2 separate regions of the Homo sapiens genome follow, and region 2 is reported to be linked to region 1. Evidence: microRNA targets listed by miRTarBase, many of them from high-throughput screens and not tested one by one. Region 1 holds a microRNA gene; the other region holds the end of a gene's coding sequence.

Evidence for each region. The annotated mature microRNA hsa-miR-297 reads AUGUAUGUGUGCAUGUGCAUG and lies in region 1 at 2,209-2,229, opposite strand. An mRNA with a match to its seed (bases 2 to 7 or 8) in the 3' UTR can be bound and repressed. Matches are read on the target gene's strand: a 7mer-m8 pairs with bases 2 to 8, a 7mer-A1 pairs with bases 2 to 7 and ends in A, and an 8mer does both.
Region 2: miRTarBase lists PAPSS2 as a target of hsa-miR-297. Seed matches in the 3' UTR shown: 8mer at 656-663.

Annotation. Positions count from the first base shown.
Region 1 is chr4:110,858,416-110,861,683 of GRCh38, forward strand. It overlaps MIR297 (microRNA 297), which reads right to left and starts at 2,232; the gene lies at 2,167-2,232.
Region 2 is chr10:87,745,488-87,748,621 of GRCh38, forward strand. It overlaps PAPSS2 (3'-phosphoadenosine 5'-phosphosulfate synthase 2), which reads left to right. Exons shown (of 13, transcript NM_001015880.2): 13 at 345-2,218. The coding sequence ends at 483. Among named protein-coding and RNA genes, the nearest start is that of ATAD1, 71 kb to the right of the region's middle.

The sequences.
Region 1 (3,268 bases):
TCAGCCTCCCAAGTAGCTGGGACCATACACGTGTGCCACCATGCCTGGCTAATTTTTGTATTTTTTTGTAGAAAGTGGGTCTCACTTTGTTGTCCAGCCCGATCTCCAACTCCTGGGCTCAAGCGATTCACCCACCTCAGCCTCCCAAAGTGTTGGGATTACAGGTGTGAGCCACAGCACCCGGCCTTTAATTCCTTTTTAATATTCAGATCAAATACTTTTCTTTCTTGTTTAAAAAATAAATTCAGATCAAATGTTGTTGTTGCTGTTATTTTCATATTCTGAATGTGTGGCACTCTTGACTCCTTGAATGCTGTGTGTGCATATAGGTAGATAATTTATGGAGCCGCTGAGGGGATTCCCTCTCATTCTTTCCTGACCCCAAGTCAGGAACTGACTTCCCATGTGGGAGATGAGATTTAGTACCCAGTACTTCAGTCGAAAGCCCATAGGCAGATGTTATGGCTCTATTTGCCTCCCAAAGTTTCCTTCAATGAAAGGACTCAAAGGGGGCACAAGTTAGTTTTCTTCTTAGTGGCCCAAAAAGGTGTGGCGAGGAAAAGAGTATTGCTGAAATATCTGCTTTGAAATTAAAGAAAATAAGACATTTCTTTAGATTAGCTTAGAATAATGAGATGTGAGAAGGAAAGTTTAAGGTATATAAAATGGGGCAATTTATAATTTGTCATAAAGTTGTTATAAGGATGGAATGTGTTATTATTATAAAGAGCTTAGAATAGTTCCTGGCAGAGAGTGATTTTTATTTAAGGGTTAGATATATAGTTAGTATAATCTTTTGGCTACTTTTATTATCAATTGATTATGAGATTGATCAGAAAAGACATTTGGAGATAGAGTGGGGCTGGCAAATGTGATCCCTTTTCCCCTTTTAGACTCTAATTTCTCTTTGCCCCTCTTCTTTTTAATCCTTCAATCTCTCTCTCAGACCTATGACTTGATGCCTGTAGACCCTAGGTAGTGAGATCTGTGTGCCTCTGAGGACTATGATGCAGCACTCCAACAGAAATAGCAGAATTCTGAATAAGTATTCAGTCAGCACGTTACTGTACTAAATGCTTTAGGCAACTGTTACACAATGGCAAGCATTTGTGTATCTAAACATTTCTAAACATATAAAAGGTAAAATATGGTATAAAAGACAAAAAATGGTAAACCTGTATAGGGCACTTACCATGCATGGAGCTTGTAGGACTGGAAGTTGCTCTGGGTGAATCAGTGAGTGAGTGGTGAGTGAAGGTGAAGGCCTAGGACATTACTGTCCACTACTGTGGATTTTATAAACACAGTGAACTAGGCTACACTAAATTAAAAAAAAATCTTCTTTCTTAAATAATAAATTAACTTTAGCTTACCATGGCTTTTTTACTTTATAAACTTGTATTTTTTTACTTTTTGACTCTTTCTGTAATAACATTTAGTTTAAAATATAAACACATTGTATCGCTGTACAAAAATGTTTTCTTTCTTTATATTCTTATTCTATAAGCTTTTTTCTATTTCAAAGATCATATATATATATATATATTTTACTTTTTCAACTTTCTTGTTAAAAACTAAGACAGAAACATACACATAGCCTAGGCCTACACAGGGTCAGGATCATCAGTATCACTGCCTTCCATCTCCACCTCTTGTCCCAGTAGAAGCTCTATTAAGAGTGGAAAACTGGAAATAGTAACACAAATGGAGCTGTAATCTGCTATAACAATGCCTTCTTCTGGATACCTCCTGAAGGACCTGCCTGAGGCTGTTTTATAGTTAACTTTTTTTTTATAAGTTGAGGCAGTATACCCTAAAATAGCAATAAAAGTTTACTATAGTAAATATATAAGCCAGTAACATATTCGTCATTATCAAGTGTTATGTATTGTGGATAATTGTATGTGCTGTAATATTATATGACTGGCAGCACTGTAGGTTTATTTACACCAACATCACCAAAAACGCATGAGTAATGCATTTGCTATTACATTATGATGGCTACGACGCCATTAGGTGATAGGAATTTTTCAGCTCCATTTTCTTCTTATGGGACAACTGTCACATTTGTGGTCTGTCGTTGACTGGAACTTTTTCGTGTGGTTCATGACTATATGATCAATGCAGAAGTTATACCATAGATTAAAAATAGAAATGAAATCTCCTTGATATATGAGTACATAATACATATATATGTATATACACATACATGCACATGCACACATACATACATATGTTCATAAAGTATGTAGAAAGAGATCTTGAGTTGGAAATAAGCCATCGTTCAGGCAGGTGGCCATGGGTTAAAGCTGTGAATTTACAAAATGGGGAAAAGGGAATCAGAGTAAAAAGCTATGCTATTACTCCATATTTAATTTTAATTGTGATGGGTATAGAAGCCCTTTGGCATGAAAGGGAAAATGGTATATATTTTAAATTTTCATGCCAATGATAAATATTTCACATGCATTAAAACCTGTAAAATATATTGTATTTACAGGAGCAAGTCACATTCTAGGGGGAAATTGCCTTTCCTGCAGTTGTATTTTTACATTACCCCAAATACCTGTGAGAACCAATTAGTCTCCACAACTTGCCATGTTCCTGTTAAGTGAACCTGGCACAGGAACATCCAGCTAATCCTTTGGCAGCCTTGTGTGAAGTACTTAGGAAGCCTGGTGTGTCCTTCCTCCAACCTTACAGCATGGGAGCCAACTCTGGCCACTGTTGGCCTGTTATTGTGCAGTGGTGAATTTCTGACACAAAATGAGTTGTGGAGATTACTGAGGAAGGAACGCAAAGTGATTATGTGGTCTCTCTTTTGGGCCTGATCTTTAGACCTTCAGAAAAATTGGCCTCAACCTTACAAAGATATGGACAAGGAAGCCATTCCAAACACGAAGTACTCCATTGTATAAAGTACAAAAATGAGTAATACCATCATTAAGAATAAAATATTCTCAAACAAGAGCCTACTGATTAAGAATGGAAAACTGGGCTGGGCGCAGTGGCTCATGCCTGTAATCCCAGCACTTTGGGAGTCTGAGGTGGGTGGACTGCTTGAGGTCAGGAGTTCAAGAGCAGCCTGATCAACATGGTGAACCCCCGTCTCCACTAAAAATACAAAAATTAGCTGGGCATGGTGGTGGGTGCCTGTAATCCCAGCTACTCTGGAGGCTGAGGCAGGAGAATCACTTAAACCCGGGAGGCAGAGGTTGCAGTGAGCCCCTATCGCACCATTGCACTCCAGGCTGGGCGACAGAGCAAG
Region 2 (3,134 bases), not on the chromosome of region 1:
CTAAGTGAAAGGAAGCAACATAGAAAGAGATTGCAATGAATATTTATGGTGCACTTGCTCCTCATGCTGAGGGTTCACAGAAGTAGGCAGAGAAACAGAAGACAGACTCTGGGCTCAAGACACTTCCCAGGAACAGTATAGGCGCATGGCAAATACTAAATGGATAGCTGCCATTATTTCCCTTCTCTTCTGCAAGTTCCTGAAGATTTAGAGGACTGCCCACTTTTGAAGATGCAGCATTTTACAGAAAGAACATGGGTCTCAAAAACCATAACCTACTCCAGGAATCCTTAAGGCAGATATCATTTACCTACACTGAGTTCTTTGTTGCCACCCTGTAACAGGCACAATGAGTTTGACTTCATCTCAGGAACTCGAATGAGGAAGCTCGCCCGGGAAGGAGAGAATCCCCCAGATGGCTTCATGGCCCCCAAAGCATGGAAGGTCCTGACAGATTATTACAGGTCCCTGGAGAAGAACTAAGCCTTTGGCTCCAGAGTTTCTTTCTGAAGTGCTCTTTGATTACCTTTTCTATTTTTATGATTAGATGCTTTGTATTAAATTGCTTCTCAATGATGCATTTTAATCTTTTATAATGAAGTAAAAGTTGTGTCTATAATTAAAAAAAAATATATATATATACACACACACATATACATACAAAGTCAAACTGAAGACCAAATCTTAGCAGGTAAAAGCAATATTCTTATACATTTCATAATAAAATTAGCTCTATGTATTTTCTACTGCACCTGAGCAGGCAGGTCCCAGATTTCTTAAGGCTTTGTTTGACCATGTGTCTAGTTACTTGCTGAAAAGTGAATATATTTTCCAGCATGTCTTGACAACCTGTACTCTTCCAATGTCATTTATCAGTTGTAAAATATATCAGATTGTGTCCTCTTCTGTACAATTGACAAAAAAAAAAATTTTTTTTTCTCACTCTAAAAGAGGTGTGGCTCACATCAAGATTCTTCCTGATATTTTACCTCATGCTGTACAAAGCCTTAATGTTGTAATCATATCTTACGTGTTGAAGACCTGACTGGAGAAACAAAATGTGCAATAACGTGAATTTTATCTTAGAGATCTGTGCAGCCTATTTCTGTCACAAAAGTTATATTGTCTAATAAGAGAAGTCTTAATGGCCTCTGTGAATAATGTAACTCCAGTTACACGGTGACTTTTAATAGCATACAGTGATTTGATGAAAGGACGTCAAACAATGTGGCGATGTCGTGGAAAGTTATCTTTCCCGCTCTTTGCTGTGGTCATTGTGTCTTGCAGAAAGGATGGCCCTGATGCAGCAGCAGCGCCAGCTGTAATAAAAAATAATTCACACTATCAGACTAGCAAGGCACTAGAACTGGAAAAGACCACAGAAAACAAAGAATCCAACCCTTTCATCTTACAGGTGAACAAACTGTGATGATGCACATGTATGTGTTTTGTAAGCTGTGAGCACCGTAACAAAATGTAAATTTGCCATTATTAGGAAGTGCTGGTGGCAGTGAAGAAGCACCCAGGCCACTTGACTCCCAGTCTGGTGCCCTGTCTACACCAGACAACACAGGAGCTGGGTCAGATTCCCCTCAGCTGCTTAACAAAGTTCCTCGAACAGAAAGTGCTTACAAAGCTGCCTTCTCGGATACTGAAAGGTCGAGTTTTCTGAACTGCACTGATTTTATTGCAGTTGAAAAAAAAAAAAAGCTATTCCAAAGATTTCAAGCTGTTCTGAGACATCTTCTGATGGCTTTACTTCCTGAGAGGCAATGTTTTTACTTTATGCATAATTCATTGTTGCCAAGGAATAAAGTGAAGAAACAGCACCTTTTAATATATAGGTCTCTCTGGAAGAGACCTAAATTAGAAAGAGAAAACTGTGACAATTTTCATATTCTCATTCTTAAAAAACACTAATCTTAACTAACAAAAGTTCTTTTGAGAATAAGTTACACACAATGGCCACAGCAGTTTGTCTTTAATAGTATAGTGCCTATACTCATGTAATCGGTTACTCACTACTGCCTTTAAAAAAAAAAACCAGCATATTTATTGAAAACATGAGACAGGATTATAGTGCCTTAACCGATATATTTTGTGACTTAAAAAATACATTTAAAACTGCTCTTCTGCTCTAGTACCATGCTTAGTGCAAATGATTATTTCTATGTACAACTGATGCTTGTTCTTATTTTAATAAATTTATCAGAGTGAAGGCTGAGTTTTTTCTGCCTGTACCATTGGGTGTGGGTTGACCACACAACTTAAGGGCTTTGTGACTTTGTATAATTGGAGTGAGACAGCAGCAACTCTCTTGAACATCATAACTGAGATTATTTACCCTTATTCATGTCTTTTTTATTTTTTATTTTTTTAAAGACGAAGTCTTGCTCTGTCACCCAGGCTGGAGTGCTGTGGCACGATCTCGGCTCACTGCAACCTCCACCTCCTGGATTCAAGTGATTCGCCTGCCTCAGCCTCCTGAGTGGCTGGGATTACAGGCATGCACCAGCACGCAAGGCTAATTTTTGTATTTTTAGTAGAGATGGGGTTTCACCATGTTGGCCAGGCTGTTCTTGAACTCCTGACCTTGTGATCCACCTGCCTCGGCCTCCCAAAGTGCTAGGATTACAAGCTCACTGCACCCTGCCTTTTTTCTTGTTTTTCTTTTTTTTTTTTTTTTGCCTGCAGTGGTGCAATCTTGGCTCACTGCAACCTCTGCCTCCTGGGTTCAAGCAAGAGTAGCTGGGATTCATTACTGGGTACATACCCAAAGAAATATAAATCATTCTGCTATAATGACACATGTACACGTTTATTGCAGCACTGTTTACAATAGCAAAGACATGGAACCAACCCAAATGCCCATCAATGATAGACTGGATAAAGAAAATGTAGTACATATGCACCATGGAATACTATGCAGCCACAAAAAGGAATGAGATCATGTCCTTTCCAGGGACGTGGATGAAGCTGGAAGCCATCACCTTCAAAAAACTAACATAGGAACAGAAAACCAAACACTGCATATTCTCACTAGTAAGTGGGAGGTGAACAATAAGAACACATGGACACACAGAGAAGAACATCACACACCGGGGCCTGTTGCGGGGTGGTGAGGGGAGGGAACA